2 linked regions of the Homo sapiens genome follow. The protein of the gene in region 1 purifies or fractionates together with the protein of each later gene. This does not show direct contact. Each region holds a gene or a part of one and is shown in the gene's direction. Other genes may lie near its edges.

Region 1 (14,484 bases):
TACTAGCCAGATGCAGTGGTGTACACCCATAATCCCAGCTACTCAGGAGGCTGAGACAAGAGGATCATTTGAGTCCAGGATGTTGAGTCTGCAGTGAGCTATGATTGCACTACTGCACTCCAGCCTGGGAGACAGCAAGATCCTGTCTTAACAAAATAAATAAATAAAAATAAATAAAATATAGGTCTTGGTCTCACCCTTAGTTTCTAGATCAGCAGATAGCCTAGGAATCTGGGTTTAACAGGCTTCCCAGTGTTTCCTGGTGGGTCCTGAGTGGTATGAGGGTGCCACTGGGCTGGCTGCAGGACAGTTGCATACTCTTGTCATTTCTCCACTTCCCCCAGTGTGGCTGAGCAGCAGGGACGGTGGCGAGGCTGGTACACCTACACAGACCTGTGTGTGCTGCTGGAGCAGCCGACCTGGCAGTTGGCCCTGGGCTCCCTCTGCCAGCGGCTGGTAAAGGTGAGGAGGGGCTCGGAAGGATAGGGAGCTTGAGCAGGCCGGTGTGTAGGGTGGGATGGTGTGAAGTGATTGCTGAAAAGCCCAGGAGATGGGGTTGGGAATAGATGGGCAGAGTGGGGTGTAAATGGCTATAGAGACCTCCAACTGGAACACAGATTTCTAGAGACAAGGGGTGAATGTGTTAAAGACAGATTCCTTCTTTCTTATCTCCTCTCCTGCAGCTGTCTTGCCTGTTAGCTGTGGCATATGTGAGCAGTGTGGCCCTGGCTGTGGCATCGGTGGCCGTAATACATCAGTCTTTGGGGCTGTCCTGCATCCCTACACCTGGGCCGCCTGACCTTGGACTGACCTCCCGTTGCCTCCTGGAGCCCTGCATACCTTCTGTGCCACAATGCCTGCCGTCTCTCGCTAATGTCTCCAGCTGCCTGGAAGGCAGCATGGGGCTGCGGTCACTCTGGGGCAGTCTTCTGGCCTCACTGACTCCTCCACCATTGCCTCCCCCAGACCCCCCTGCCCCTCCCACTCTTCTTCATAACTGCCACCTTTGCCAGAAGCTCCAGAGAGACTCCCCAACCTGCCATGCCTGCCTCCACCCCAACCGTACAGTCCCCACTGCGCTGTCCAGCCCCTGGTACCATACCTATGGCCTGGCTCCCCCCTGGCCTTGGAGCCCGGTGCTCCTTTCACTTCCTCAGCCTCAGCAATGTTCCCTTTTCAGTGTCATGGAGCTGGCTCGCCTCAAGTCTTTCGTTTTCCCAGGCTAGGTAGGGCTGTGAGGAATGCATTAAGAGGGTTTGGGAGTTTCTGAGAACCTGGAGGAGCAAAGCTTGATTCAGATCCTGTCTGCCTCGCTGGGTCCTTGGCAGGTCCCCTGTCCTCCTGGGTGGGAGCTTATGGGGTGGTGGGGCAGAAGGACTGAAGGTAATTCACTCCTAGATCGCAGTGGCTGGCTGCTTGGCCAGGACAGTGATGCCGCCAGGGAGAGCTTCCGCTTGGTGACCAGGGACATGTCCCAGATGGACATAGAAGCCCCTCTCTGCCTCCCTGGGATTTTTTAGACTTTTACTTTTGATTTCCCTAGGATGGAAGAGTATAGGTGGGAGATAAGGGAAGTGGGGTGAGAGGAGAAAGGAAATGTTGGCATGGGCCTGTGTGATGTCCCTGAGGCAGAAGAGCCGGGGACTGATGGGTTCAGGTGGGAGCTGCTGGGTGAGGCAGGGAACCCTTTTCACTCCCATTCCTTAGCTTTAGTCTAATGGAGCCAAGGACTGCTGGGACCTTCAACCCTGATCTTTTGTCTTCCAGTCTTCTCTTAGTGTCCTGCTCCTAGGTTTCCCTCTCTTCTGGTTCTTCTCCCAGGTATTCTCTTCCCAGGCCTCTCTGGCCACTGCTTTGTATCAGGGTTTTTCACGCTTTTGTAGAACTGAGGTTTCAATAAACAGTTTCAGTTGCATGGCCTGGACTTTTCCTTCTGCGGCAGCCCTTGAAGATTTTTCCTCCCTGTATCTGCCTTCCAAGCCTCCCTGCTTCCTGATCCTGTCATCTCACAAACTGTTTTCTCAGCCTCATCTCAGGACTTTCCTATCGTTTGATAGGCATAGGCTTCCATTTCCAACTTTGTTCCTGCTCCCAGGACCCTGGGCCCTAGCACTGCTCAACTTGGGATGCCATGGGACACACATGGTGACTGTCCTGTCCCTGAGTTGGCCTTGTCTGTCACTTGTTCTGGGTAAGCACTCTCCTTGTGGATCCCAAAGCACATCTCGTGGAGAGGGGCCAGGCCTTGTAACCAGCAGAGCCTTGTGAGCTCCTGAGGGCAAGCCACGAGGACGCTTCTCTCTCCTGACCTCCTCACTGGTCTGACACATGGTGATGGTCACATGGTGCTTAACAATTCCAAGAACTTGAAGAACTCCAAGGCTGGGTCATCACTGGAGGAAGGAAAACAGTCTGGGCAGCTTGGCTGAGGGTATTTGGGACTGCTGAGGATACTTCACGGAAGAAGTGGTTCTGCCCCCTAGGGGGCATTTTGGAAATTTATGGGCTATTTTTTCATTGTCAAAAGGATTCAAGGGGATGGGGTGCTACTGGCATTTCGTCAACCTGGGCGGGATGCTAGACATCATGAAATGCTCAGACCTCCCGTACTGTGAAGAATTCCCAAGACAACTTTTGAATGACCAGCTTTATGTATATGAAAACCCTGTTTATCTGAGCCTAGAACTGTCTTTGCACATGTAAACGTGAAATAGCGTTTGTGCGTTTTGAAAAGACTCAGTTTGCTAGGAATTCATTCCCATGTAAATTAAGACGACTTTATTTTGCTTGGCACCTTAACCAAGAGTTTGTTTGCCATTTTGAAAATCGGGTTACCAACATCAGAGTCACCGATAAAGCACCAATATCAGCTGGCATTGCAGCTATTGCAACCACAGCAATTCTCATAGGGTGTGGGATTGGACTACTTCATTGTACTTTATTGTCTTCTGGTTTAGTTGTGCTTAAGCCTTCACGTAATGAAATACATGTTATTATAAATTTTATTCTTTACAGTGAGCATGTTTCAGGTAGTTGTGGTTGTCACATGTGATGTAGGATATATTGTCCACAAGTTTCTTTTTTTCTTTTTTCTTTTTTTTTTTGACACAGTCTCACTCTGTCACCCAGGCTGGAGTGCAGTGGCACGGTCTCAGCTCACTACAACCTCCGCCTTCTGGGTTCGAGCAATTCTTGTGCCTCAGCCTCCCGAGTAGGTGGGATTACAGGGATGTGCCACCACATCCAGCTAAGTTTTGTATTTTTAGTAGAGATGGTTTCACCATGTTGCCAGGCTGGTCTTGAACTCCTCACCTCAAGTGATACACCCAGTTCGGCCTCCCAAAGTGGTGTGATTACAGGCATGAGCCACCATACTGAGCCCACAAGTTTCATTTTGAAGTAGTCCAGGGGCCTTGGTTCTGAAAGGGGTGAGGACTGTGGATCAAATAGTGATAGTTTTAAATGGGAGGGAATAAAGTCTGCAAAATTTCCCCATATTATTTTGAAGAGCTCCTCTCCTCCCCACCCCTCCTATCCTACTTTCTACAGCCTGGTCTAGGGGCAGGAAATCTGGAAGAAGATTCTCGGGGGAGGGCCCCAGAACTCAGCTCCCCAGTTAATGGCTGATGGAATTTGCACAACAGCTGGGCAAAGGTGAAAGGGTGGTGCCCTGCCCCAAATTCCTTATACCTTTGCTCCGCTTCATTGACACCCCCACCCTCTCCCCACCTTCTCCCCACCCCAGGCTTCACCCAAACTCTGACCTCTTACTCTCTCTACTTAACTCTGGTCCCGGGCAGCCAAGACAAAGCGAAAGGCAAGGCAGCATGAGCCGATCACCCCTCAATCCCAGCCAACTCCGATCAGTGGGCTCCCAGGATGCCCTGGCCCCCTTGCCTCCACCTGCTCCCCAGAATCCCTCCACCCACTCTTGGGACCCTTTGTGTGGATCTCTGCCTTGGGGCCTCAGCTGTCTTCTGGCTCTGCAGGTAGGAGGCAGAGGTGCAGGAGTTGGTGCTGCCTGATGGTGTGTGTGGGGAAGTAGGTGTAGATGTGGCATGTGAAAGCCTCTGGAAGTATTGTAGGTATTTCCACTTCTCTGAAGACTGCCCTCCCCATTCCTCCACCTGCAGCATGTCTTGGTCATGGCTTCTCTGCTCTGTGTCTCCCACCTGCTCCTGCTTTGCAGTCTCTCCCCAGGAGGACTCTCTTACTCCCCTTCTCAGCTCCTGGCCTCCAGCTTCTTTTCATGTGGTATGTCTACCATCCTGCAAACTTGGATGGGCAGCAGGTGAGAGGAACCTCCCTGGAGAGAGGGGCAGAGTCCTGGAGGGTAGGAGAGGTTTGGGGGAGCCTTGCTGGCTGCCACATAGTCCCAGACCTGCTGGGGCTGCTGTTCCTACAGGCTGCCTCTTGTCCAGGCTCCATCCTTAGAGTTCCTTATCCCTGCTCTGGTGCTGACCAGCCAGAAGCTACCCCGGGCCATCCAGACACCTGGAAACTGTGAGCACAGAGCAAGGGCAAGGGGTAAGGGTGGGGCTGGGTTCTCATCTGAGCATGCAGGTGTAGGTGGGTGCAGAATTGAGATTGGGCAGTGGTGAGACTGTGACACTATAGGGGGCTTGGACCTGTGCCAGGAGTGGGACTGTAGAGCAATGGGTCTCCATTCCATTCACCCTTCTCTTCTCCATGCCCCAAACTTTTCCTAGCCTCCCTCATGCTGCACCTTTGTAGGGGACCTAGCTGCCATGGCCTGGGGCACTGGAACACTTCTCTCCAGGAGGTGGGTATCTGGAGGTGAGAAGGGATAAGGGTGGTGCCAGGCTTGGGGGGGGCTCTTGTTTCCATTATGCACAGACTGAGATGCTCCTGGAAAGGAGTTTTGGGAGGAACCCATACTTAGAATTAGGAAGACCAGGCTGAGGCCAGTTTGATTGAGCAGAATGTTTTCTCTCCATCCTCTCCTCTCTTCTACCAGGTGTCCGGGGCAGTGGTAGTATCTGGGCTGCTGCAGGGCATGATGGGGCTGCTGGGGAGTCCCGGCCACGTGTTCCCCCACTGTGGGCCCCTGGTGCTGGCTCCCAGCCTGGTTGTGGCAGGGCTCTCTGCCCACAGGGAGGTAGCCCAGTTCTGCTTCACACACTGGGGGTTGGCCTTGCTGTACGTGAGTCCTGAGAGGCGTGGGATGGTGCCCAGTGGGGGTGTATGGGGGGACTAGGGGAGGGCAGAACTGCTGGTCCTATCAGATTCAGCAGCGACTGGAATAGGGACATATTTTATATTTGGAATCCAAGACTTTTCCTTGATTCATCTGGTCTCCTTGAATTTCACACTGTTTTCTGCTGTCCCCCAAGGTCACTTCCTATTCCTTCCATGGGAGTTTCCTTCTCTGGTATCACCCCCCGCTCTTATGATATTCTGCCCACTCCCACCTCCTTTCCCATCCCTCAGGATACCCACTGCCTCTTGCTCCTAAAGCCTTCTGTCTCCTAGGGTTATCCTGCTCATGGTGGTCTGTTCTCAGCACCTGGGCTCCTGCCAGTTTCATGTGTGCCCCTGGAGGCGAGCTTCAACGTCATCAACTCACACTCCTCTCCCTGTCTTCCGGCTCCTTTCGGTATGTGTGGGTCTGGGCAGGGCAGTAGAGGTCAGAAGGGCTGGCCTGGAGTGCTCACTCCATCCCCTACCTTTTGGCTTCTGTCTACCCCTGCAAGGCTGGCTCAGAAGGTTCTGGGGGAGGAGTTCTTTTCTCAGTCTCGCCCCTCAGGTGCTGATCCCAGTGGCCTGTGTGTGGATTGTTTCTGCCTTTGTGGGATTCAGTGTTATCCCCCAGGAACTGTCTGCCCCCACCAAGGCACCATGGATTTGGCTGCCTCACCCAGGTAGGTTTTCTCCTAGTCCTCCATTCTCTTGTTCAAATAAAGGTATCTATTTGAACTCAAAGAACTTAATGGATTTTATTTCTGAGTTAAATCCTGTGTTTTTTGAAAACATATAGGAGAGAGAAATTATCAGTCTGAGAGACAGACAATGCTAGCCCCTCACTGTAGGTGTTTTTTTGTTTGTTTGTTTGAGACAGGGTCTCACTCTGTCATACAGGGTGGAGTGCATGGCGTGATCATGGCTCACGCAACCTCAACCTCCCAGGCCCAGGTGATCCTCCCACCTAAGCCTCCGGAGTAGCTGGGACTACAGGTGTGCTTTTTTTTTTTTTTTTTTTTTTGTAGAGACAGGGTTTCACCATGTTGCCCAGGCTGGTCTCAAACTCCTGGGCTCAAGTGATCTGCTTGATTAAATGCTGGGATTACAGGCATGAGCCACTGTGCCCCATCCCACTGCAGGTGTTTTATTTGGGTCAGTGTTAGGAGACAGACATCTGTTGTTTCTGTAACCCCCGATACTCACTACCAATACTCCTTACCCAATGAACACATTTATGTTACCAGCCCCTATGGGCATTTGACTTGGCAACCTATGTATAAAGATTGCTTTTGAGGCATTGTATGTGAAATTTGCTCATTCTTCAATTTATTTATTTATTTAATTTACTTTTTGGGACAGGGTCTTGCTGTGTTACCCAGGCTGAGAGCATTGATGCAAACATGGCTCACTGCAGCCTCAACCTCCTTGGCTCAAGCTATCCTTGTGCCTCAGCCCCACAAGTAGCTGGGATTACAAGCGTGCACCACCATGCCTGGCTAATTTTTGTGTTGTTTTGTAGAGACGGGATTTCGCCATGTTGTCCAGGCTGGTTGTTCATTAATTTAATAAGGATCTGTTGACTGCTGATTATGTGCTAGGCACATGGTAGAGGACATAGTGATGAACATGACAGAAACAGTACTTGCCTTCAGGGAGCTTACAGTCTATTGGGGAATACAGATACTAATTAAAGAGTCACCCGAGGAAATATAAAATTGCCATTGTGGGAAGTGTAACCAAAGGGAGATACATTGTGTCCTAAGAGCTTATAATGGAGGCCAGGCACAGTGGCTCACACCTATAATCCCAGCACTTTGGGAGGCAGAAGCAGGAAGACTGCTTGAGGCAAGGATTTCGAGAGCAGCCTGGGTAATAAAGCAAGACTCCACTCTACAAAACATAAAAAAATTAGCTGGGCCTAGTGGCACATGCTTGTAGGCCTAGCTACTCAGGAGACTGAGGCAGGAGGATCACTTGAGCCCAGGAGTTGGAGGCTGCGGTGTGCTATGATTGCACCACTGCATTCTAGCCCAGGCGACAGAGTGAGACCTTGTTTATAAAAATAAAATAAAATAAATTAAAATAAAATAAATAAAATAAAATAAAATAAAATAGCCAGGCACCATGGCTCACACCTGAAATTCCAGCACTTTGGGAGGCTGAGGTGGGAGGATTGCTTGAGCTCAGGAGTTAGAGACCAGCCTGGGCAACATAGTGAGACCTCGTCTCTATTAACAGTATAAAAAATTAGCCAGATATGGTGGCATGCACCTTTAGTCCCAGTTACTTCAGAGGCTAAGGTGGGAGGATCGCTTGAGCCCGAGAGATTGAGGCTGCAGTGAGCTATGATTGCATTACTGCACTTCAGCCTGGGTAACAGAGCAAGGACCTGTCTCAAAACAAACAAACAAACCAAAAAACTTATAATAGGGAATTTGAATTTATCAGGGAGGTCAGTAAATTTTTTTTTTTTTTTTGAAATGGAGTTTCACTCTTGTCGCCCAGGCTGGAGTGCAATGGTGTGATCTTGGCTAACTGCACCTCCGCCTTCCGGGTTCAAGTGATTCTCCTGCTTCCACCTCCCAAGTGGCTGGGATTACAGGCATGCACCACCATGCCTGGCTAATTTTGTATTTTTAGTAGAGATGGGGTTTCACCATGTTGGCCAGGCTGGTCACAAACTCCTGACCTCAGGTGAGCCACCTGCCTTGGCCTCCCAAAGTGCTGGGATTACAGGCGTGAGCTACTGCACCCCGCCTAAGTAAGGATATTCTTGAGGATGTGGCCACTGAGTTGAGATGGAAGAGATGAGTAGGAGCTAACTAGACAAAGGCAGGAGGGAAGCGCATTCTAGTTGCAGGAAACTGCATATGCAAAGGCCCTGTGGTGGCTGGGAGCACAGCATGTACAAAGGCCTACAACAAGGCCAGTGTGGCAGGAATGAAGGAAGTGAGGCAGAGTGTGCTGGGAGATAAGGCTGCAGAGAGAGGGAAGGGCCAGACCAAAGAGGACCTTGTAGACCATGGTAAAGGCATGGGTCTTTCTCCTTAGAGTTCAGTAGTTTTGTCCCAAGACATTGTCTTCAAAGACATTGAGGCATCTAGGATTCTTGTGGCACAGGCTGTTGGAGGCAGGGGGTACTCCTGACTTGAGTCTGGCCCCAAAGTGGCTTCTTCTCCCTCCCCAGGTGAGTGGAATTGGCCTTTGCTGACGCCCAGAGCTCTGGCTGCAGGCATCTCCATGGCCTTGGCAGCCTCCACCAGTTCCCTGGGCTGCTATGCCCTGTGTGGCCGGCTGCTGCATTTGCCTCCCCCACCTCCACATGCCTGCAGTCGAGGGCTGAGCCTGGAGGGGCTGGGCAGTGTGCTGGCCGGGCTGCTGGGAAGCCCCATGGGCACTGCATCCAGCTTCCCCAACGTGGGCAAAGTGGGTCTTATCCAGGTACGTGGACCTGGGATGGGAGTGGGGTAGGATGGAGCTAGAGGGGAAGAAGAAGGACAGGAACTTACACCGATTGATTGCCAGGTGTGCCTAGCACCTCACATCAACTATCTTACTTGGGGAGGTGCCTAAGATTAGACTTTGGGCTAAGAGAGTGGGGAAGTGAACAAATCACCACGGAACTCCTGTGCATGAGGCACTGTATCAAGGCTAGGGCAAAGAACCAGTCACATAAAGTTCTGCTCTCTTGGGGACTTCATAGAGGGAGAGGCAGACAGTTGAAGGAAAAAAGTATCTTTTTAAAAAAGTGGGCCAGGCATGGTGGCTCACACCTGTAATCCTAGCACGTGGGGAGGCTGAGGCAGGCAGATCACTTAGGCTAGGAATTCAAGACCAGCCTGGCCAACATGGTGAAACCCTGTCTCTACTAAAAATACAAAAATTAGCTGGGCATGGTGTTGTGCACCTATAATTCCAGCTACTCAGGAGGCTGAGGCAGGAGAATCGCTTGAGCCTGGGAGGCAGAGGTTGCTGTGAGCCGAGACCGCACCACTGCACTCCAGCCTGGGCGACAGAGCGAGACTCCATCTCAAAAAATTAAAAATTAAAAAAAGAAAAGTGAAGAAAATTTCAGAAGGCAATAAGTGCTATATAAAAAAATCAGGGTAGTGGGATGGAAAGGAGGCACGTTTAGATAGACTGGCCAGGAAGGCTTCTTGGAAGAGTAACATTTGAGCTGGGATCCAAATGATGAGAAGGAACCAGTAAGGCAAAGACCTGGGACAGTCTGAGGAAGTGGCTGTGTTTTCCAGTGTCTTTTCTTCATGCAGGCTGGATCTCAGCAAGTGGCTCACTTAGTGGGGCTACTCTGCGTGGGGCTTGGACTCTCCCCCAGGTTGGCTCAGCTCCTCACCACCATCCCACTGCCTGTTGTTGGTGAGTGGATGTATCAACAGGGCTGGTATTGAACTGCTACTCCCCAGTGTGGCCTGATCAGTTCTTTAGGATGGCACCCTTTCCTTCTAAATAGCTTTCCTGGATGGATGGGTGGATGGATGGATGGATGGATGGATATGAGCATGTGTCAGCCTCAATTTCTCAGCCCAACATTTTGGTCTTCTCTTGATTGGGCTTCTGGGCTTCCTGAAGAATCAGAAATCAGCCTCAGGCTGGGCGTGGTGGCCCACACCTGTAATCCCAGCACTTTGGGAGGCCCAGACAGGCAGATCACTTGAGGTCAGGAGTTCGAGATCAGCCTGGCCAACATGATGAAACCCTGTCTCTACTAAAAGTGCAAAAATTAGCTGGGCGTGGTGGCACATGCCTGTAATCCCAGCTACTCGGGAGGCTGAGGCAGGAGAAATCGCTTGAATCCGGGAGTAGGAAGCGGAGGTTGCAGTGAGCCGAGATTGCACCACTGCACTCCAGGCTGGGCGTTACAGTGAGACTTGCTCTCAAAAAAAAACCAAAAAAACAAAAAAACAAAAAAAACAAAAATCATTCTCTTGGGTTTTATTTGTTTCCCATTACAACCTGCTTGCCCTGCAATACTCCATGCTATGTGAGCCCCCTTGACTCCTCCTGACCCCCTTGATTTCTTCTGTATGAGACAGGTGGGGTGCTGGGGGTGACCCAGGCTGTGGTTTTGTCTGCTGGATTCTCCAGCTTCTACCTGGCTGACATAGACTCTGGGCGAAATATCTTCATTGTGGGCTTCTCCATCTTCATGGCCTTGCTGCTGCCAAGATGGTTTCGGGAAGCCCCAGTCCTGTTCAGCACAGGTAGGTGGAAGGGAAGAGGCGTTGCTCAGTAGCAGGAAAGCAAGTTGAGGCTTCAGGCTGCCCGGACTCCTGGCCCCACAGCCTTCTCTGGGCTTTGGTGTAAATACTTCATCCATTTGTTTAACAGATATTTATTGAGCACTATGCTAGCCATTTGGAATACAAAGATGCCTTCCGTTATTACAGCGTAGTACAAGAGATGAGATGTGTAGGAAAATAACAGGAAAGGTTCAGATAAAGAGCTACAGTGCTCAGTGGCAAGAGAGATAGCTTCTGTTTGAGGTGATCCAGTAACAGAGCTGGTCTTGAAGGATGGTAAGTTTTAAACATCTTTGGTGAGAAGAAGGTCATTCCTGATGGAGGAACCATCATTTATGCAAAGACACAGAAGTGGGAAGTCTTAGGATATGTCCTGAGAGCAGTAAATTGCTTAATTTGTCTCACCCAGTTCTCAACTGGGTGATTTTGCCCCCATGGGGACATTTGGCAATGTCTGGAGACATTTTTGGCTGTTACAAATGGAGGAAGAGGGAGTTGTTACTAGGGTTTAGTGGATAGAAAGATGCTGCTAAACATCCTACACTGTACAGGACATCCCCCCTGCACCACCACCCCCAACAAAGAATTATCTGGTCCAAGATGTCAGTAGGACTGAGGTTGAAAAACCCAGGATAGAGCATAGAGGGTAAAAAATGGGAGATGAGGTTGGGACTTAAATATTACGCTTTCTAGAGAAAGGGAACCTGGAATAGTCAAAGCATATATGGAGGGTGTGTGGATGATCAGAACACAGGGTGTTGAGCAGGAATCCTGTGGGAAAGGCCTGGATTTGGAAAGTGGAGAGTAGAAAGACAAAGGGTGAGAGGGATGAAATGACAATTCAGAAAGATCTGTCCTTAGTCCAAGGCTTAGGTTTAGGTCTGGGAGGGTAAGACTCCTGGGCTTGGATATAGGATCAGAGTTCCCTTCCTGCCTGGCCCCAACTCTTCATAGGCTGGAGCCCCTTGGATGTATTACTGCACTCACTGCTGACACAGCCCATCTTCCTGGCTGGACTCTCAGGCTTCCTACTAGAGAACACGATTCCTGGTAAGTTGAGGCTAGGCCCTAGCAGACTGGGGAGTGGCCAGGAAGCCATCCCTCCCTGGGATGGGCAATAGCCTGACAAACCTCTCTTTTGCAGGCACACAGCTTGAGCGAGGCCTAGGTCAAGGGCTACCATCTCCTTTCACTGCCCAAGAGGCTCGAATGCCTCAGAAGCCCAGGGAGAAGGCTGCTCAAGTGTACAGACTTCCTTTCCCCATCCAAAACCTCTGTCCCTGCATCCCCCAGCCTCTCCACTGCCTCTGCCCACTGCCTGAAGACCCTGGGGATGAGGAAGGAGGCTCCTCTGAGCCAGAAGAGATGGCAGACTTGCTGCCTGGCTCAGGGGAGCCATGCCCTGAATCTAGCAGAGAAGGGTTTAGGTCCCAGAAATGACCAGAACGCCTACTTCTGCCCTGGTTAATTTAGCCCTAACTCTCATCTGCTGGAGAGTCAGCTCCCAAACTGTTCTTTCTTGTAGGCAGAGGATATGTGTGTGTGTATTACATGGGACTGTCTAGAGGTTCCATTTCCCAATAGGGTGGGTTGCCTTTCCTTGTCTTAATTAGGCCTAACTGTTCCAGAGCAGAGGCCATGATTTAGTGGACCATGAATGATTGAGATTTTGCCTGTGTACTATCAATGCCACTTGAACCCCAGCATTCACTTTAATACTTACTGAGCATCTCCCATGTGCAAGGTCCTGGAACTACAGGGATAAGACAGGGTCCATGCCGTCTCAAGGCATTTACGGTTTAAAAAGACCTTTGTAATTACTAACGAAAATGCAAAGCAGAAAGCAGTCTGTAATAAAGATTAAAATAATGCCGTGGGAGCAAAGAGGAAGGGATAATGAATTCTGATTGGGGACAGTGGGAAAGGCTTTATGCAAGAAGCAATGAGGATGGCCTTGACAAATGAGGATTTTTGGTTTTGGAAAATGGATGCAGAGAAGTTTTCAGGTTCGGGGTCCAGCTTGAGCAAAGCCATGGGTTGTACAAAGTCCAAGATAGGTGAGGGGTTTCAAATTTCTCAGTAGTGAGGGAGTATAAGTACGGGGATGATGGAGAAATGAAGCAGGAGAGGTAAAGGATGAGGTCGGACTATGGGACTTATGCCTGGGAGACTCCTTCCTTCAACAACTCTAGTGCTGGTGGAGGACCTGAGAGATCATCTACAGAAGTTCAATCCCTTATTTTGTTAAAAAGAGACCGGATAGGTAGGGGAGGGAAGAGAAGTGACTCAAGTTTGACAAATCCAAACCTGGGCTCCCCTCTCCTGCGCCTCGCCCGCTATTCTTTCCACTCGGCCAGCGTGACTCCAAGACGCGCCACTACCCTTCTACTAGCCGGCTGCCCGGCCTCTCCTCCACTTACCCTGGCCACTGGGGCGCTCCTCTCATCAGTGTCCCAGGCCCAGAAGCCCCGCCCACGCCAGGCATAGGCCCCGCCCCTGTATCCCAAGACCCTGCCTCCTCTTGCGGTGGGGGGAAAGCGGCCTCTTACTCTAGGCCTTTCGGTTTGCGCGAGCGGGCAGGAAAGCGTGCGTGCGGCTAAGAGAGTGGGCGCTCTCGCGGCCGCTGACGGTAGGTGGAATCGCGTTCGAGTCCGGGCAGGAGCAAGCCAGCGAGGGGCTGCTCAGACGCTGCGGGTTGGCCCTGGCGCTGGCCTTTTCTCCCTGGAGGGAGCGCGCGCTGCCGGGGTCCAGGGCAGGCCTCCGGGGGAGGGGTGGGCGGGGCCGCGCGTGCGCAGTCCGCTGGCTGCTGCCCGGCGTGGATGGTAGGGCTCGAGTGAAGGTACTCGTTGGTCGCCTGTTTGGTGCGACGAAGCCGCTGGTGGCCGGCTTTGTTGCCCCTTGAAGCCGCGCCCCAGTGCAGCCAGTGCTGTAGAAATGGGAAGGCGGACAGCGAAGGCTGTTATAGCTGGGGCGGGTGGAAGCGGGACGCCTGGCGGCTCCTGGGGTGGGGCTATGGTTGTGGTGGGACCTAGGGTTCGCGCTGTCCCAGGGGGACCGGGCGGGGCCCAGCCGGGATGCTCTCTGGGCCTCTACTGCCCTCTGCAGGGCGTCGGAGGAACTGCCCAGAGGGGTCACTGCTGAGGAGCGGACTCGGTGCAGATAAAGGTTCTCAAGGGACCCCTCCGCCGGGATGCCGCTCAGCGCCCCTCCACTCAAGAGAAATAAACCCGTGAATCTCGTTAATGTGAATGTTAGAGGCAGCCTTGAAGGAAAAAAGAAAAGGATGAAGTGTAGAAGCTTCGGACGCAGAACGGGACGCGTGTGGTGGGAGCAGGCAGCCGGGGTCTGGTGCCCAATGTGTCAGGCCTTTTTATAGGGCCCGTTACTCCTGGCCACATTTTAAACTCCTCCCCCTTTACCCAACAGACAAACAAAACCCATCAATTTGAGGGTTCTGAGCTTCCGGGCTTTCCGAAGGAATGGGCTAGAATAGTAAACCCAATTTTGGCAACTGTTAAGAGTACACTGGGGAGTGCCTATAAGGGAGATGAAAGTGGCGACTTTATTCGCGTTTGTGACCTTTGGCATTGTGGAGCTCTTGTCCGGCTAGGACTAGCTTAATCATCCCATGACCACTTCTGTCCCCATAAGAGCAGCATGTGGGAAATGTGACGGAAACACCATCCTCCAAACACAAGGCTTTGAGGATGCCATAAAGAAAGATCACCACGTATATGTATATATATGCATATATATATATGCATATATATATGCATATATATATGCATATATATATGCATATATATATATGCATATATATATGCATATATATATAAAGTTATGTCACAAGTCACAAGGGCACACTTCAAAAGCTAGGGGAAATGACTGTGTTAATCAGACTTAATAAGGAATTTCATTATTTACATTCTAAATTTTTCCTTCCTGGTACTTCTGTTCATTTTATATTTGTAGACTGGAATAATGAAGGAAATTGACATATTTTTTTCTCCCCCACAGGAAA
Region 2 (15,419 bases), on another chromosome or scaffold:
GCAGACTCAGCCTGAGTTTCACACGTTTGTTATTTAGCATCCATTCGGGGGCTGGCCTCATGCCAGTCACACTGTTTAAGGGACTTGGGATAAGAGGGAACAAAACATTGAAAAATCTGGGCACTCAAGTACTAGAAAGTCAAGTTAGATCCTCCTCTTCCGCAGCAGAACTACCAAGGTGTGGATACAGAGGATGGTCTCAAAATGCCGGCTGTCATCCCCAGGGAGGCTGGCCATTCTCCTTTTTATCCACCAAGCAGTGGTCAGGCACCCACTGTGTGCTGCTGGAGTGACTCATGGGTGGGGCCCTGAAGGGGCAGAGTCCAGGTGGGAACAGTGTCCTCAGGCCAAGCAGGCAGCACCTCCTGTGGTCTCTCTGCCCTGGATGGGAACTGGAGTGATGGACAGGGTGGAGAAGCAAGCGGCTTTAGCTGGTCTTCACCATGAAACTGACCCTGAAAGCCCAGTCGCCAAGAGACCATATCGAGGCCCCATGGCTGGGGTGAAGTGTGGTCGGGGATGAGCAGCGGTGCCTTGCTGGGAAAGGAGAGTTCAGGCAGCCCAGGACAGCGGCTTCCCTTTGCCTTTCAGCTGCTGTATGTTTCCAGGAAACTTCTAGGACAGAGGCTATTCAACAAGCTCATGAAGATGACCTTCTATGGGCATTTTGTAGCCGGGGAGGACCAGGAGTCCATCCAGCCCCTGCTTCGGCACTACAGGGCCTTCGGTGTCAGCGCCATCCTGGACTATGGAGTGGAGGAGGACCTGAGCCCCGAGGAGGCAGAGCACAAGGAGATGGAGTAAGGCCTGCCCGGTGTCTGCGGGCTTTCTGATCATGACCCTGGAGCACCCAGTGGGAGCAGGTGGGATGTATCCAGCTGCTGGGCTTCAGCCTCAGCTGGGCAGAGGCCAAGGCTAGGAGAGCTTGGTCAGCCCAACTACCGATGACCCTCCTGGGCTCTGCCTGGAGTTCTTGCATTTTTGTTTCATGCGGTGGACAGCTCTGGGCTTTCATGGGAGGCCTGGTGTGCGTGAGGCCTGAGGAAGCAGAGTACAGAATGGCCCTTGGCCCTATCTAGTCCACCGCCTGGAGGAGCACAGGCACCAGCATATGAACCAAGCACTCTGCAAAGAATGGTTGGTCTCGCCTGGATCTCACATGAGCCAGGGACTGCTCCAGGAAGTGGAGGGAAACGTGGTCTTGTTGTTCTGTCCTGATGCCCTGCCCAGGAGGGCGGGTCAGGGTGGTACCAACTGCCCTCTACACTCACTGCCCAGGGAAGGGGCCTTGTATCAGCTTAGTGGCCTCCAGGAGCTGACTCCAGGCCGGCCTGCTACACTGCTCCTGGCTTCAATTCCCTTCTCCACTGACAATGGGGCAGGGGCCAGGCCTGGGAGGTTCCACAACTGCAGGGCAGGCTGAGGCCAGGCAAGGGTCGGGCAGTGGGACCTGCCTGCGGGTCAGGAATCCCTGCAAAAGAGAGGCTGTAGCAGAGCCTCCTCCATCAGGTCAGCAAGTTTGTGTAAACAGCCAGGTAGCACAGACTCTCAGTCGGGCCACACCCTCCCTGCCACAACGGCTTCACTCTGCCTCAGTAGGGCCATAGTAATTAGAATTTCATATAATTTTCTTGTGTCACAAAATATTATTCTTGTTTTGATTTCTTTCAACCAGTTTTTTTAAAGTAGGGTCTTGCTCTGTTGCCCAGGCTAGAGTGCAGTGGTGCCATTGTTCACTGCAGCCAACCTTCTGGGCTCAAGTGATCCTCCCATCTGAGCCCCCTAAGTAGCTGGGACCACAGGCACGCACCACCATACCTGGCTAAGTTTTAATTTTTTTTTGTAAAGATGGGATCTCCCTATGTCTTCCTATGTATTTGGGTCCCCTGCACCCTGACAGCAGCCGGGCCTGACCCACATAAGGCTTGGGACAGTCCCTCTGTGGACCTGGTCAGGCCTTGGTGGTTGTTCCTGCCCCTCCCCTGGTGGCTGGCCTGGGAAGGGGAGGGAAAGGCAGTCACATGAGGCCTCCAGCCCTGGGAACGGAATGTCTGAGGCTTGCCTCAGCATGTCGGCTGCCAGCTGCCTGGAGAGGATTGGCCAGGGGAGCCCAGCCCCTGCCTTGCGATTGGCTGTTTTGAAGGTGGGGTACTACAGCCCCAGCACCCCACTGTGTTCCTAGCAGGCCCCGTGGGCCTTGCAGCTGCCTGAGCTCTTGGCTGCAGCCTTTGCTGAGCTGCCTGTTGAATAACCAATGGCCTGTGTGTTCTCAGAAGGAGTCTGGGTGGGGACTTGGTTTCACAATGGGATTTTCCTCTCAGGCGCCTCTGGTATGAAAAGACTCCTTTCCCAGGGTGGTCCTGCCTGGCTTCCTCCCTGCCCTGCAGGCTGAGTGTCTGGAGGTGGACTGGCCTGCACTCTGCCAGGGGGCTGGGCACCTGTGTCCTTAGGAGCTTGAGTCCTTTGCCCTGCAAGGGATTCACCTGTCTTGCTGCTGGTGGCTGCTGTCTGCAGGGGTCCTGCTCCAGCTCTGGGAAGTGAACAGGGTTCCCTCCTGTCCTCACAGGGGTGCATGCTGAGGACACCTACCGAGCTCAGCTGCTTTGTGCTTTCAGAGGGGCCTGAGCCATGGGGGTAGGGCTGGGTCTGCAAGCACTGGTCTGATGTCCACACTGCAGCATGGCCTGCTTGGCCAGGAGTGACCAGTCACGCAGACCCTAGTGCAGGGAACTGCTTAGAGATCTGCCTTCCTAACCTACCCTCCTGTCACAAGGGCCATGGGCTCTACTCTGGGGAGAGACACTGAGGCCACCGCCCCAAATTAAGGCCATGGCAAGTGGTGCTGGCCGTGAGAGGCCCAGGGAGGATGGAGGCGTCTGAGTGCATGGCAAAGTGAGTCCCAGCAGTGCTCCCGAGAAAGAAAGAGGAGGTGGGAGCCTGGAGGTGCAGGAGGGCAATGCCCACCCGGGGGGGGGGTGGACCATGCTTCCCAGAGGCCAGGGCCCCACCCAACCCCAGGAGAGGAGTCCCAGGGATCCCCGAAGCAGGCTGAGGGCTTGGGGATGGGGAAGGGGCCAAGGCATCTTCCTGATGATTGGGCTGTGAGGGAACACCTAGGGGGTGGATGGGGGCATTGGTCTGGCTGTGCAGGCCCAGGGCTGGCTGGAGGCAGGATATGTGTGCAGTGAGTGTCCTGAGCGAGGGGCTGGGGAGGCAGAGGGTTGGGGAGCTGGGGAGGGGGGTACAGGTAGGAAGCGGCTTGCCAGGCTTCCCTCCAGGAGAGAGTTGGACAAGGGCGGGGTGTGGACCCCCATGCTCTGCTTGTTTCAATAGGCATCACGTCCCCAGGGACAGCCACCCAGAGCTGAGGTGGAGGCTGAGGGGGTGGTCAGGGTCTTCCTGCTGTCTCTGAAGACCCCCTGGGGACACGTGCTTGTCCTCCTCTGCCCTATGTCCCCTTGTCGCTCTTCCCTCCTCTGTTGTCCCAGGTCGTGCCCATGTGTGCGATCATGTGCCCTTCAACAGACTATGCCCTGGGCATGATGAGGGGTGGGACTGGGGGAGCACGAGGCAGGTCCTGGCTTTAAGGAGGCATTGGGATGTGGTCCCCACCCTGATCAGGGCCCCACATCCACTGGTTCACCCTTCCTCCTCTAACACCCCACAGCTGCCAGTGCCATGTGCCCCCCTCTTCCCTGTGGTGCCTTGAGCCAGGACGTGGCAACGTCCCAGGTGGCGAAAGCCAGATTTCCTGTGTGGCACCCGCAGTTCTGAATCAGCTGCTCCCAGGGTGCTTTCTTCCTCTTCTCCAGTGGAAATAGGACCCCTGACCTGCCTGGGAACCACCATTTGTGTCTCCTTGTGACTTATCCATGATGCCTGTTGGAGAGTGTGGCCCTGTCCTTGCTGCGTAGCCATCCACTCTGAGACCTGGCTGCCCCTCTGGCCACTGCACGTGCTGTGTGGTCATCTTGGCCACTGCTTGGCTGTGTCAGCCTGGTCTGTGCTCTGGAAGTTCACGGAGAGGAGCAGCGGTAGCCTATGGTGTTCTGCCTCTGAGTGTGTCAGAGCAGGAGAGGGAGCAGCCCTGGCTTCCCCAGCCTCTCCTGCCAGGCCCACCTCAGAGGATGAACACAGCAGCTGTGGGAATGCTGAGCGGGAACTCATCTGCCTGGGGACCTGTCAGATAATGATCCTGTTTCATGAAGGTGAGCTGCCTCACAGGCAGACACCTGTGTGGTTAAGTCCCGTGTTATCCAAACTGTGGGCTGTGTGGTTTCAGGATGGGACCTTCTCTTCAGGGTCATGGAGGCCCCTGAGGCCCTGTCCCCACTGTCTGCTGTTACTTGCCATGAGGGTTTCTGCCCTGGGCAGGGCCCTGGCTGCCACCCCGGCCTTAACATAGACAGTGAGTCCCCCTTGGGGATGGCTTTTCCTGGCTGTACCTAAGCCTTGGCGTGAAGGTCTTAGGGCTGATCTCATGACTGGTCTTGAGGTGCCCAAGCCAGGGGCCCAGGAGCTCCCTGTCTCAGGCAGGGGTTCACGTGCTGCCTGCCTGTTCCCTAGTCACATGGTGACATTCCACCCTCTTCTGTCACATCTCTGTCAGCATAAGGTGGCCAGAGCATATCTGCCTGCCAGCTCCCATCACTGGGCTGCAGCCTCAGGGGCCCTGGCAGCACATGTGGAGTCCCTGGCCCATGTGGGGCTGCCCAGGAGTGGGTGGGAGGGAAGGCCTCCTGGCGGGGGCTCCTGGCCCAGGGCTTGCTCCTTGAGCAGCCAGGTGGAAAGTGGGCAGCTGAGGCCCCTTGACATGGAGGCCTCTGGGATGCGGCTCACTGACCACTGCTCTGCCTTTCCCCTTCCCGGCATCTGAGGGGGACCCTCTCCTTTCCTGTGAGTGTGGGCAGAGCTGCCCCTGAGGGTCCGAGCGCCTCTGGGGAGCTTCAGGAAGGCTCTGGGTGCTGTTGGTCATGCAGCTGAGCTCTCTCCGTGGTCACTGACTTGATCAGGTTTGAATATAAAGTCAGGTGACCCTCAGAGCTGCTCCGGGGGCCAGGGAGACCATGGTCGCTTTGTCACAGCAGACTTAACGGCCGCAGCAACTCTTGCTAGCCTGGATGACACAGCACTGAAACCAAGTGCCAGAAGCAGATTGTGGCTGTGGGGAGGAGGAGGAAGAAGAGGAGGCTCTGGCAGGGGTGCAGGGCTGGTGGGGGAGGGGAGCCAGGTACCCTAGAGAAGGGAGGGGCCAGGGGGAATGGGGGTGCTGGCCAGGCGGGGATGGAGAGGCTTCTGCAGGAAGGACAGGGGCTTGGCTGAGCAGAGTGTGGCCAGCCTAGCGGGGGACAGCCTGCATCCTGGCCTCACTGGTCTTGAGGTGCCCAAGCCAGGGGCCCAGGACTTTGGGCATTACTAGGAAATGATGGGAACCCTGGGTGGGGTGGCGTGAAACAAGATGAGATGGTAAGATCTGCTTTCACTTTAAAGGAACATTTCTGGTTGTTGCTTGGAAAAGAAGTGTCGGGGCAAGAATGCTACAGGAGGGCCGGCCTGGAGGACAGGGCGGGACTGCAGGGCTGGCTGTGCGGGGGCAGGAGCCTGTGCTTGCATCAGAGCTGCCTGGGAGACCCTGGCTCTGGGGTGGAGGCCTGAGTAAGGGGGCCTCGCTGGGGATTTGGGGACCTCTGTGTGCTGGTGCCTTCCCGCCTCCGTTCCTCTCAGCCCTGACTGGCTCTGTCTTGGAACCAGGTAACTACCTTTATTTGAGAACCTGCTGCAAGCCCTGGGCTGTTCTGAGAGCTCAGGAATATCGTTCTGATTTCTCCACCCACAAGGAGCCCCGGGCTTCCTGAGCCCTTGGGACACAGCAGCCCCATAAACTGCTGCCCCTCCCAGGCCCAAGTGTTCCACCCCAGGCTAGGGGTGGGGCTGGGGCTGCACCTTGGAATCTACCCTCCACCGGGGTTGTGGTGGGGCCCTCCGTGCAGCCTCAGTGGGAACGTGCCTGTCACCTGAGGCTCAGGTGGCGTGACCCTGACCTTTGCTCTCCCCCTCCTTCCCACAGGTCCTGCACCTCAGCTGCGGAGAGGGATGGCAGTGGTGAGTGAGAGGCTGCCGCGCAGGAACAGACTCCCTCCCGACTCCGCACACCCCTTGGTGGCTCAGGAGAGTCTAGGCTGGGGCACAAGTGGGCCTTGGGGTGACGTCGGAGCCCGGGCTCCTCCCTATGTCCAGGGCACCTGCCCTGTCGCTCTGGGCTCTGACATACTCGCAAGTGTCTGGGGAGACGCCCTGCTCCTTTTTCATGGCCTCCTGGTGGACCTAGGCCTTTGTTAAGGAGACTGCCGTCCTGGCCTCATGAGGAGGCTTAGCCAGGGGGATGCAGCACTCCAGGTGGAAGAGCCGCGGTGTAGACAGGAGGGTGGGCTTGGGGATGGGAACCATGGGGCAGTGCAGTGCCAGGGCCAGGCTGGCAAGGCCACTATGCTTGGAGCCCTCCTGAGGGCAGGGGCCCTGGGCTATTGGTGTGTGGGTGCTGGGGGTGGGTGTTTGGAGCTGTGCTCAGGCCGTGCATTCGCTATTCCAGGCACGAATAAGCGGGACAAGCAATACCAGGCCCACTGGGCCTTCGGGGACCGCAGGAATGGTGTCATCAGTGCCCGCACCTACTTCTACGCCAATGAGGCCAAGTGCGACAGCCACATGGAGACATTCTTGCGCTGCATCGAAGCCTCAGGTGGGGCCCCCTCTTTGCTGGCTATACCCCTGCCATGTCCCAGCCTGAGCGGACCCCTGGGCTCATGGAGGTGCCGGTGGGTGAACACTAAGCTGGGGCAGGAGCCAGAGGGCTGGGTTCTGACCACACTTGGGTCCCTCACTGTTCAGCCCCTTCCTGAGGGGCCCCACTGCCTCCCAGAAGGCATCTCCTCTCCTGCCCCAGCTCCCTGTTCCCTGATCCCGCCTCATGCCCCCCACCCTTCTCCCTGGCTCAGGGCCAGGATCGGGAGCTGCAGGAAGTTGGTCCATGTCAGCTGCCGAGCCACACTTAGCCCAGGGTGGAGGTTCCATTCAGGGAGCTGGTGCCGCATCTTCTGTCCTTCCCTGACACAGCCTCTGGGGGCCAGCGGTGGGGGCAGCAGGTGTTTCCAGGGATAGAGAAGCCAGAGGTCAGCAAGGCCCAATGTCCTTCAGTGTTAGAAACATCCGACCTGCACAGCCCCATGCTGGCCCCAGCAGCCCTCCGTCAGGGGCAGCGGGTCCCAGGCCTGTTTATGTTTTTGTTTGTTTGCTTCAAATGAGACTGGATCTTGCTCTGTCACCCAGGCTGGAGTGCTCACGCCTCTAATCCCAGCAATTTGGGAGGCCAAGGCGGGTGGATTGCCTGAGCTCAGTTCAAGACCAGCCTGGGCAACATGGTGAAACTCCGTCTCCACTAAAATACAAAAAATTAGCCGGGCGTGGCAGCAGGCGCTTGTAATCCCAGCTACTTGGGAGGCTGAGACAGGAGAATCACTTGAATCCAGGAGGCGGAGGTTGCAGTGAGCCAAGATTGCGCCACTGCACTCCAGCCTGGGCGACAGAGTGAGACTCCATCTCAAAAAAAAAAAAAAAAAATGAGGTCTCACTATGTTGCCCTGGTTGGCCTGGAACTCCTGGGCTCAAGTGATCCCTCCACCTTGGCCTCCCAAAGTGCTGGGATTACAGGCACACACTACCACACCCAGCTAATTTTCATATTTTTTGTAGAGATGGTGTTTCACCATGTTGCCCAGGCTGGTCTCAAACTCCTGGCCTCAAGCGAACCTTACACTTTGGCCTCCCAAAGTGCTGGGATTATAGGTGCATGCCGCTGCACCTGGCACTTCTGAGCAGTGCTTGGAAGCCGCCTCCTGATGGGGGCTGAGGGTCAGAGTGGCCAGCTGAATGCTGGGCCATCAGGGTGAGGGGCGTCTTCTCCTCGTCCATTGCCTGTTCTCCCAGGGCAGGTGGAAGGGGAAGGCCCTGCATTGGGGTGGCGTGAAACAAGATGAGATGGTAAGATCTGCTTTCACTTTAAAGGAACATTTCTGGTTGTTGCTTGGAAAGAAGTGTCAGGGGCAAGAATGCTGCAGGAGGGCTGGCCTGGAGGACAGGGTGGGACTGCGGGCTGGCTGCACGGGGGCAGGAGCCTGCGCTTGCGTCAGAGGTTCCTGAGAGACTCGGTCTCTGGGGCAGAGGCCTGAGCAAGGGGACCTCGCTGGGGTGTCTCTGTCTTAGCCACGCTCGGTGTTTCTGGGTCCTGTGACCCACGTGTGAGCAGCCTGTGGTGCTGGTGGCACAGGGAAGGAAACCGAGGCAGGGAGCCTGTGGGGGCTGCTTGGCAGGGGACAGGCAGCTCCTGTGCCCACTGCTGTCCCACACCTGCATGGAAACAGAAACCCCGCCACGGAGCCCCCTCCCATCTCCACAGGGCCTCTAGAGCGCCATGTGCAAGGACTTCATGGGCGGGGTGGGGTGGGGTCAGGAGCCTGCTGTGGGCTGGCCAGGCCCTGGCCCTCCCTGTCGCACCCTGCGCTGCCTCCATGCACCTCTCAGGGCTGTCATGGCTTTTCCTGTGGCTTCTGACAGGTAGAGTCAGCGATGACGGCTTCATAGCCATTAAGCTCACAGCACTGGGGAGACCCCAGTTTCTGGTAAGTGCTAGAACCTTCCACCTGCAGAGTCTGGTGCTGTGCGAGATCTCAGGGCAGCTGTGGGCATCCACCAAAAACACAGGTGCCCATGCCTTAGAGGCCTGAGCTGGCCACAGGGGCTGTGTGGGGGACTGGGGTGGGCAGGGGCGTGTGCAGATGGCATTCAGGCCTGCGTTTGCAGCTGCAGTTCTCAGAGGTGCTGGCCAAGTGGAGGTGCTTCTTTCACCAAATGGCTGTGGAGCAAGGGCAGGCGGGCCTGGCTGCCATGGACACCAAGCTGGAGGTGGCGGTGCTGCAGGTGGGGCAGCCTTCCCCTTCCCCACTCCTGTGGCTTGTGAGGGGGTGGGCACCGTGGGGTCACACGGGGCATGGTGGGCAGTGGTCGGAGGTGGTTTTGGGAACTCACCCAGGGCATGTGGCTCACTCTGCAGCTGCTGGGGTTGGCCTGGTGGGGAGGAGGAGGTCAGAGGGACTCTGAACAGAGAGGGGAGATGCTGGCAGGAGGGCTGGAGACCCAGCCCTGCAGGGCGTGGGCGTGCATCAGCAGCGGGGTGGGAATAGACCTGTCTATGCAGTAGAAACAAACCAGACATGGATCCTGTTCTTACTAACGATGTAATAAAGCCAGAAACAGCACCAGAGGCCAATGGGTGGGGGGAAGGATAAAATATGAGTGAATGGGGCTGATCCAGGCCTTCTCACTTCTCAAGGAAAGTGTCGCAAAGTTGGGCATCGCATCCAGGGCTGAGATTGAGGACTGGTTCACGGCAGAGACCCTGGGAGTGTCTGGGTGAGAGCAGCCCCCAGGCTGAGAGGACACGAGCATCAGCCATGGTTCCAGCCAAGCCCCAGTGACGTCTCCCAGTCCTGGCTGCCCTGCCTGAGAGGGTGGGCCCTGGGATGACAGTGCTGAAGGAACTGCTTTTCACACAGCAGGACTTGATGGCTTCAGGAGTCCCTGAGGCTGGGGCTGGGCTGGGCAGGGGAGACACAGGGCCAGCACAGACCCCATAGAGGGCTCTTTATAGAATTATCTGGGTCCAGAGCAAAGGTGGCACTCTCAGCCCTCCCTGGAGTCCACGCCGGCAGGTGAAGGATCAGAGCCCCATGCCCCATCCTTGGAGCCAGGGGCTGGGACCCAGATCACCAGGAGCCTCCAGTTGAAGTGGGGAGGTGACTGGGGTGGTGCAGTAGTGAGCCATCCCCTCACACACTGCCAGCCTTGCCCACTGTGTCCTCCCTGGCCGCCCGGAGCTGTGTCCGCCTCCTGCCTGGCTGCCTGTGCTCGGCCCCTCCACAAGCCCAAAACAGCCTAGGGTACTCAGTGTTTTCAGAGCCGCCTAGATGCAGGACTGTTTGTGTTTTGGTTTTAAATTTATTTAATTAATTTATTTTTTATAGAGACCAGGTCTCACCATGTTGCCCAGGCTGGTTTCAAACCCCTGGGCTCAAGTGACCTGCCCGCCGCAGCCCCCAAAGTGCTGGGATTATAAGTTTGAGCCCCCGCATGCCACTGGTTTTAAATTTTTAAACAGAAAACAATATTTATATTTCCTCTGTCTTTTAAAACTGAACACCGAGGTGGGTTTTGTGGTGGGTGGTGAACGGACAGGTTTGGGCCTCGATCCCCCACCCGACCCTAGCACCCACAGGTGGGGGTGCCCCCTCTGCTGATGCGCCTCCTCCCTCAGCACCATGGACCTGCTGGACTGGAGCAGCCTCATCGACAGCAGGACCAAGCTGTCCAAGCACTTGGTAGTCCCCAACGCACAGGTAACACCTCCGCTCCTCAGTGAGGCCCAGCTCAGCAGGGCGCTGCGCTAAGAAGGGAATTCAGCCTGCCACGTGTGTCTCTTGTTGCCTACCCTGGGAACTTAACATGACCAAAATCACTGCACACTATGGCCCCACAGACCCCCTGTGGTCCAGGGGGAAGAAGACAAGCCCACTAGTGTCCACAGAGTGCTTGGCGGGACAGAGACCCACGCGGAGCCTTAAGACACCACAAGGAGAGGGGGTCTGGGGGCCTTCCCCAAGTCATCTGTCTTGTGCATCAGGTCACCCCAAACTTCAGAGGCCTGAAACGGCAGCAGCCACTCTGCTTCTGCCTCATGGTTCTGGGGTTGACAGGGCTCAGCTGGGCAGTCCTCCCCTGGGGTCTCCTGGGTAGCTGTACTCACAGAGTGGTGGCGCTGGGACCTGGGGGAGGCACCCATTCACATGTCTGGGAGTTGGTGCTGGCTGTGGCTTGGGCTTTTTCCCAACATGGCAGCTGGGCTCTAAGGGCCAGTGTCACCTGAGACGTGAGAGCCAGGCAGAAGCTGGGTGACCTTTTCCTGCCTCGCCTCAGAAGTCACACGGTGTCTTTTCTGGCAAGTTCTGTTTGTTAGAAGCATGTCACCAGGCCAGCCTGTATACAGCGGGGAGAGGAATGAGACTCATCTGCCTGTGGGAGGGGGGCCCAGGACCTGGCAGACTGCTTGAAACCACAGCTTAAACTGGGATTCAAAGAAAGAACAGAAGCACCTTCAGAAAACATCCTGCAGAGGCAGCTTTCCATGACACATCTAGCCCCAGTCCACTAAGGGCCCAGCCTCAAACTTAGAGCCCCCGACCCAGAGCCTCGGGGCGCAGTGCGTACAGTGTGGCTGTGCACCAAGGCCACCAGCTGTTGGAGACTTTAGCATGGTGTAGCAAGGGATAGAGTGGTACTGTTTGTGCCCAGTGAGGCAAGGCTGCTGGGGCCAGCAAAGGGGTGAGCGGGAGGCCCTGCGGGATGGGTCCCCACGGCCTCTGAGCACCAGCAACTTGAAGGCCTCATCCTGGTGGTTGCCCTGGTCCCTGGCTACGTGTCAGCACGTGCTGCACAACTGCCCTGTCTGCCTGTAGCCAGGGGTCTTCCTCCTGGGCCCTCTGCCTGCTCCGGGTGGAGCCCTTCTGTTTGACGATTGGGTGATCAGTGTTCACTTGTTCAATGTCACATGGGAGTTGCAGGGGGCTCTCCCACAACGGTGGGGCCTCTGTGGGAACTGGGGAGTACACACTTCGGAGTGCAGGCCTGGACTGAGCCTGGGGCCCACTGACATGGGCACTGAGCTCCCTCGTGGTACCCCTAGGCCCCGCATAGGGCAGTGCACTGGCTGCGTTGGAGGTTCAGGGGCACTGTGCTGCTTGTCCAGGTGGCCCTCCCTCCCAGCCCTGCACAGACGGGTGAGAGGGTTCCTGTGGGCTGGGAATACTGAGAGAGGTTTAGCCTGGGCCTCAGGGTGGCACTTTCCCGCCCTTGCTGTGGCCTGACCGCGTGTTGCACCCCCAGACAGGACAGCTGGAGCCCCTGCTGTCCCGGTTCACTGAGGAGGAGGAGCTACAGATGACCAGGATGCTACAGCGGATGGATGTCCTGGCCAAGGTGAGCTGTCCCGCTCGGGCAGAGGGTACCTGGGACTCGTGGAGAAGAGGGCACCTGCCTCACTTGAGCAACAGTTGCTCCCACTCTCCCACCCCCTGCGCCTCTCAGAAAGCCACAGAGATGGGCGTGCGGCTGATGGTGGATGCCGAGCAGACCTACTTCCAGCCGGCCATCAGCCGCCTGACGCTGGAGATGCAGCGGAAGTTCAATGTGGAGAAGCCGCTCATCTTCAACACATACCAGTGCTACCTCAAGGCAAGCCCCCGCTCAGCCCCTCCCTGCCTGCCCTGGGGCTTGGAGACCCCACAGGAGGGGCTCCTCTCATCTGAGCTCCCTGGCATTTGGCTGGTTTTACACTCAGCACCCACCAGGGAGCTCATGGGATGGAGGAGGGAGTGGGCCGTGCCCCCAAGGGGTTGTTGGGGTCTTCTGCAGCACAGCTCACCCAGCGGGCCCCAGGGTCCAGGAAAGAGCCCCTTAGGTGGTGGCCACAGCCAGGCCTGCAGAGGAGGCTGAGGCCAGGGTGACTGCCTCAGAGTAGCAAGAAAGACCCGCTGCCCGCAACCTCTCCCCTGGTTCTCAGAACCAGCCAAGAGTGTCTAAGGAGCAGGAGGAAGACAACAATCTTTATGAGGGTCCACTAGATGTACCCGACACCCCAAACTTGGAAGGTGTCACATGACCATTTCCTCCAGCGTGTTTTCAGTTCAGCGCCCCTAAGAACCTCCTGAAAGCTTTGGGCCCTCCCCGGAAAGACTCACCCAGGATGTCACATGTATTCAGGGAGCCCACCCTAGCCTTTGGGCCCCAAACTGCTCAGGGATGTTAGCAGGTCCAGAGCTCTCAGGGGTGAGCCGGATGCCCAGAGGACACAGGGTGGCATGGGGAGGGGTCCAGGCAGGAGCATGCAGTATGCACCCCTCCCGGTCGGCCTGGGAGTCTGGAGCACATGATGGCTGCTGGCGCCTGGGCTGCACCCACAGGGCCGTCCACAGGCCACACAGGAAGTTGCAGACGTCCCCACTGCCATTGCTCCTTGGGGACAGAGGTTGGAGGCCCATCCTCACCCACACCTGCTCCAGGTGCCCTGAGCTGCACCTCCCCAGGCAGCTGCTGCCCAGCCCTGGTGACTGCACCTGGGCCCAGGAAGGCCCCATCCTGCTGTCACTTGGGCTTGCCCAGGCTCCCTGTGACTTTTGGCCCTGGCCCCACAGGATGCCTATGACAATGTGACCCTGGACGTGGAGCTGGCTCGCCGTGAGGGCTGGTGTTTTGGGGCCAAGCTGGTGCGGGGCGCATACCTGGCCCAGGAGCGAGCCCGTGCGGCAGAGATCGGCTATGAGGACCCCATCAACCCCACGTACGAGGCCACCAACGCCATGTACCACAGGTGCGCAGCTCTCCCACCCCTCTGTCTTCTCAGGGCAGGGCGCCAAGAAACCAGGCCTGAGGGAGAGGCTTGGAGACTGAACTTGTCAGCCACATGTGTCCCCAGGTCAGAACTGGTATTTCCTCAGCTTTTATGTCATGTGTTACTTTTTCAAAAGCATTAAGGTTATTCTTTTATAAATATAGAAAAGCCTATTGAACAAAGCAAAATTGGCCACAGTTCCCTGAGCTTGCTCCTGCAGACACTTAGATCCAGAGATGTGCATGAACACCCGGTCCTCCCCACCCTGCAGGCTCAGCCTGTTTGCTTTTCAGTTCACACAGTGGGATCGCCCATCAGCTGTTCTGCACCTGCTTTTACTGCTCTAGTTTCTTGGTGATCTTTTCATGTAGCACAGGCTGGCCAACCATGGGCTTTTCCTCTTAGAGGCGTGTGTGCATGCTGCAAATTCAGAGAGACCCCAAGTGTCTCCTGGTTGGCTCCAGCTCCCCTCCTGCAGCCGCTGTGCATGTCGTGCCACAGCGCACACATCTCCGCCATTGTTTTTTGCGTTGTAGCGTGTCCTCTGCCCGATGTGTTTTTCATTTCGCGTTCCATCTGGGTCCTCTTGTGTGGGCTTGCAGAGTGGTGCTGTCAACAGCCAGCATGGAGTGCCCGGGGCTATGTGTCCAGCATCTTTGATCTTATTGGTTTTTAGTCTGGTTATTGTAATGGACTCGCTGGACATACCGTCACCCTCTGTGGTACACACGGGCCGTCAGGGGTTTTGTGTCTGAGGATGCAGCTGTCCTAGGTTGCTGGAAATGGAATTGCTGGGTCAGAGAGAACGTGCGTGTGGTCAAGCCTGCTGAGTGACCTCGCTGCAGGAGGGCCGTACTGCTCGGGCTTCCTGGTGCACCGGGATGCCCACCCCCACTGTGCCCTACAGGGACCTGCTTCCCTTTTATTTCCTTGCAGGGCCAGGGGTGCACTGTACGATCCCTCCCCAGAAGCAAAGCTGTGTCTGTCATGAGGCTCATGGGCATGTTTGGGCTGGTCCCCAGAGTCACAGCACGTTTGATGCAGGGACTCTGCCCCCACAGCTGGTTCTGCGTGAATTGTCTGGTCCCAGACATCGCTTTTGCTTGGTTGCTGGTCTTTCTTTTTCATGAGGTGCTGGGAGGGGCAGATGCTGCTCCTGTTCCTCCTGATCCTGTGGATACCCTTGGAAAGAGCCAGCTCAATGGATGGATCTGGGTCTGCCCTCGGCCTCCTCTCTGTGCAGCTGGTAATGAGAGGTGCAGGCAGCCACAGGCCTGGAACTGGGCTCACATGGCACTCTCCACAGGTGCCTGGACTACGTGTTGGAGGAGCTGAAGCACAACGCCAAGGCCAAGGTGATGGTGGCCTCCCACAATGAGGACACAGTGCGCTTTGCACTGCGCAGGTAGGTGTGCCCCACCCTGCACCGAAACCCCAACCTGAGCCGTTGTCTCCTCCGGCTGGGGAGAGGTGGCAGCAGCGCAGAGCTCAGGGTGGGCAGAGCGACCTGCTGGGTGGTCGGGCATTTGTGGGGAAAGGCTGGTGAAATGAGCTGGAGGGTGGCTTCAGTGGGCAGGCCCAGGCCCGCTGGCGTTCTGGACATCGGACTGTGAGAGCACAATGGCTTTTTGCAGTTACGTTGGTTTTTAAAATTAACTTTTTTCTTTTTTTGAGATAGAATCTCGCTCTGTCACCTATGCTGGAGTGCAGTGGCGTGGTCTCGGCTCACTGCAACCTCCGCTTCCCAAGTTCAAGCAATTCTTCATGCCTCAGCCTCCCAAGTAGCTGGGATTACAGGCATGTGCCACCACGCCTGGCTAATGTTTTGTATTTTTAGCAGAGACAGGGTTTCACCGTGTTGGCCAGACTGGTCTCAAACTCCTGGCCTCAAGTGATCCTCCCTTCTTGGCCTCCCAAAGTGCTG

The links.
Region 2: the proteins of SLC23A3 (region 1) and PRODH purify together in Homo sapiens (affinity purification with mass spectrometry; 2 studies listed by BioGRID and IntAct, with this or other methods). This does not show direct contact.

Annotation. Positions count from the first base shown.
Region 1 is NC_000002.12:219,159,328-219,173,811, reverse strand, and holds SLC23A3 (solute carrier family 23 member 3), read left to right. Parts: upstream 1-3,782; 5' UTR 3,783-3,827; coding exon 3,828-3,989; intron 3,990-4,133; coding exon 4,134-4,291; intron 4,292-4,405; coding exon 4,406-4,503; coding exon of another isoform or gene 4,504-4,527; intron 4,528-4,709; coding exon 4,710-4,783; intron 4,784-4,978; coding exon 4,979-5,160; intron 5,161-5,493; coding exon 5,494-5,617; intron 5,618-5,767; coding exon 5,768-5,882; intron 5,883-8,389; coding exon 8,390-8,643; intron 8,644-9,473; coding exon 9,474-9,579; intron 9,580-10,256; coding exon 10,257-10,424; intron 10,425-11,417; coding exon 11,418-11,513; intron 11,514-11,607; coding exon 11,608-11,903; 3' UTR 11,904-12,347; downstream 12,348-14,484. Other genes in the region: protein CNPPD1, read left to right, coding at 345-462, 684-1,226. UniProt on the Homo sapiens protein: Acts as a sodium-dependent hypoxanthine transporter. May show xanthine-hypoxanthine exchange activity.
Region 2 is NC_000022.11:18,916,371-18,931,789, reverse strand, and holds part of PRODH (proline dehydrogenase 1, mitochondrial isoform 1 precursor), read left to right. Parts: intron 1-591; coding exon 592-800; intron 801-6,067; coding exon 6,068-6,102; intron 6,103-6,589; coding exon 6,590-6,739; intron 6,740-8,610; coding exon 8,611-8,675; intron 8,676-8,856; coding exon 8,857-8,973; intron 8,974-9,385; coding exon 9,386-9,465; intron 9,466-10,366; coding exon 10,367-10,448; intron 10,449-11,991; coding exon 11,992-12,084; intron 12,085-12,192; coding exon 12,193-12,339; intron 12,340-13,298; coding exon 13,299-13,474; intron 13,475-14,801; coding exon 14,802-14,900; intron 14,901-15,419. UniProt on the Homo sapiens protein: Converts proline to delta-1-pyrroline-5-carboxylate.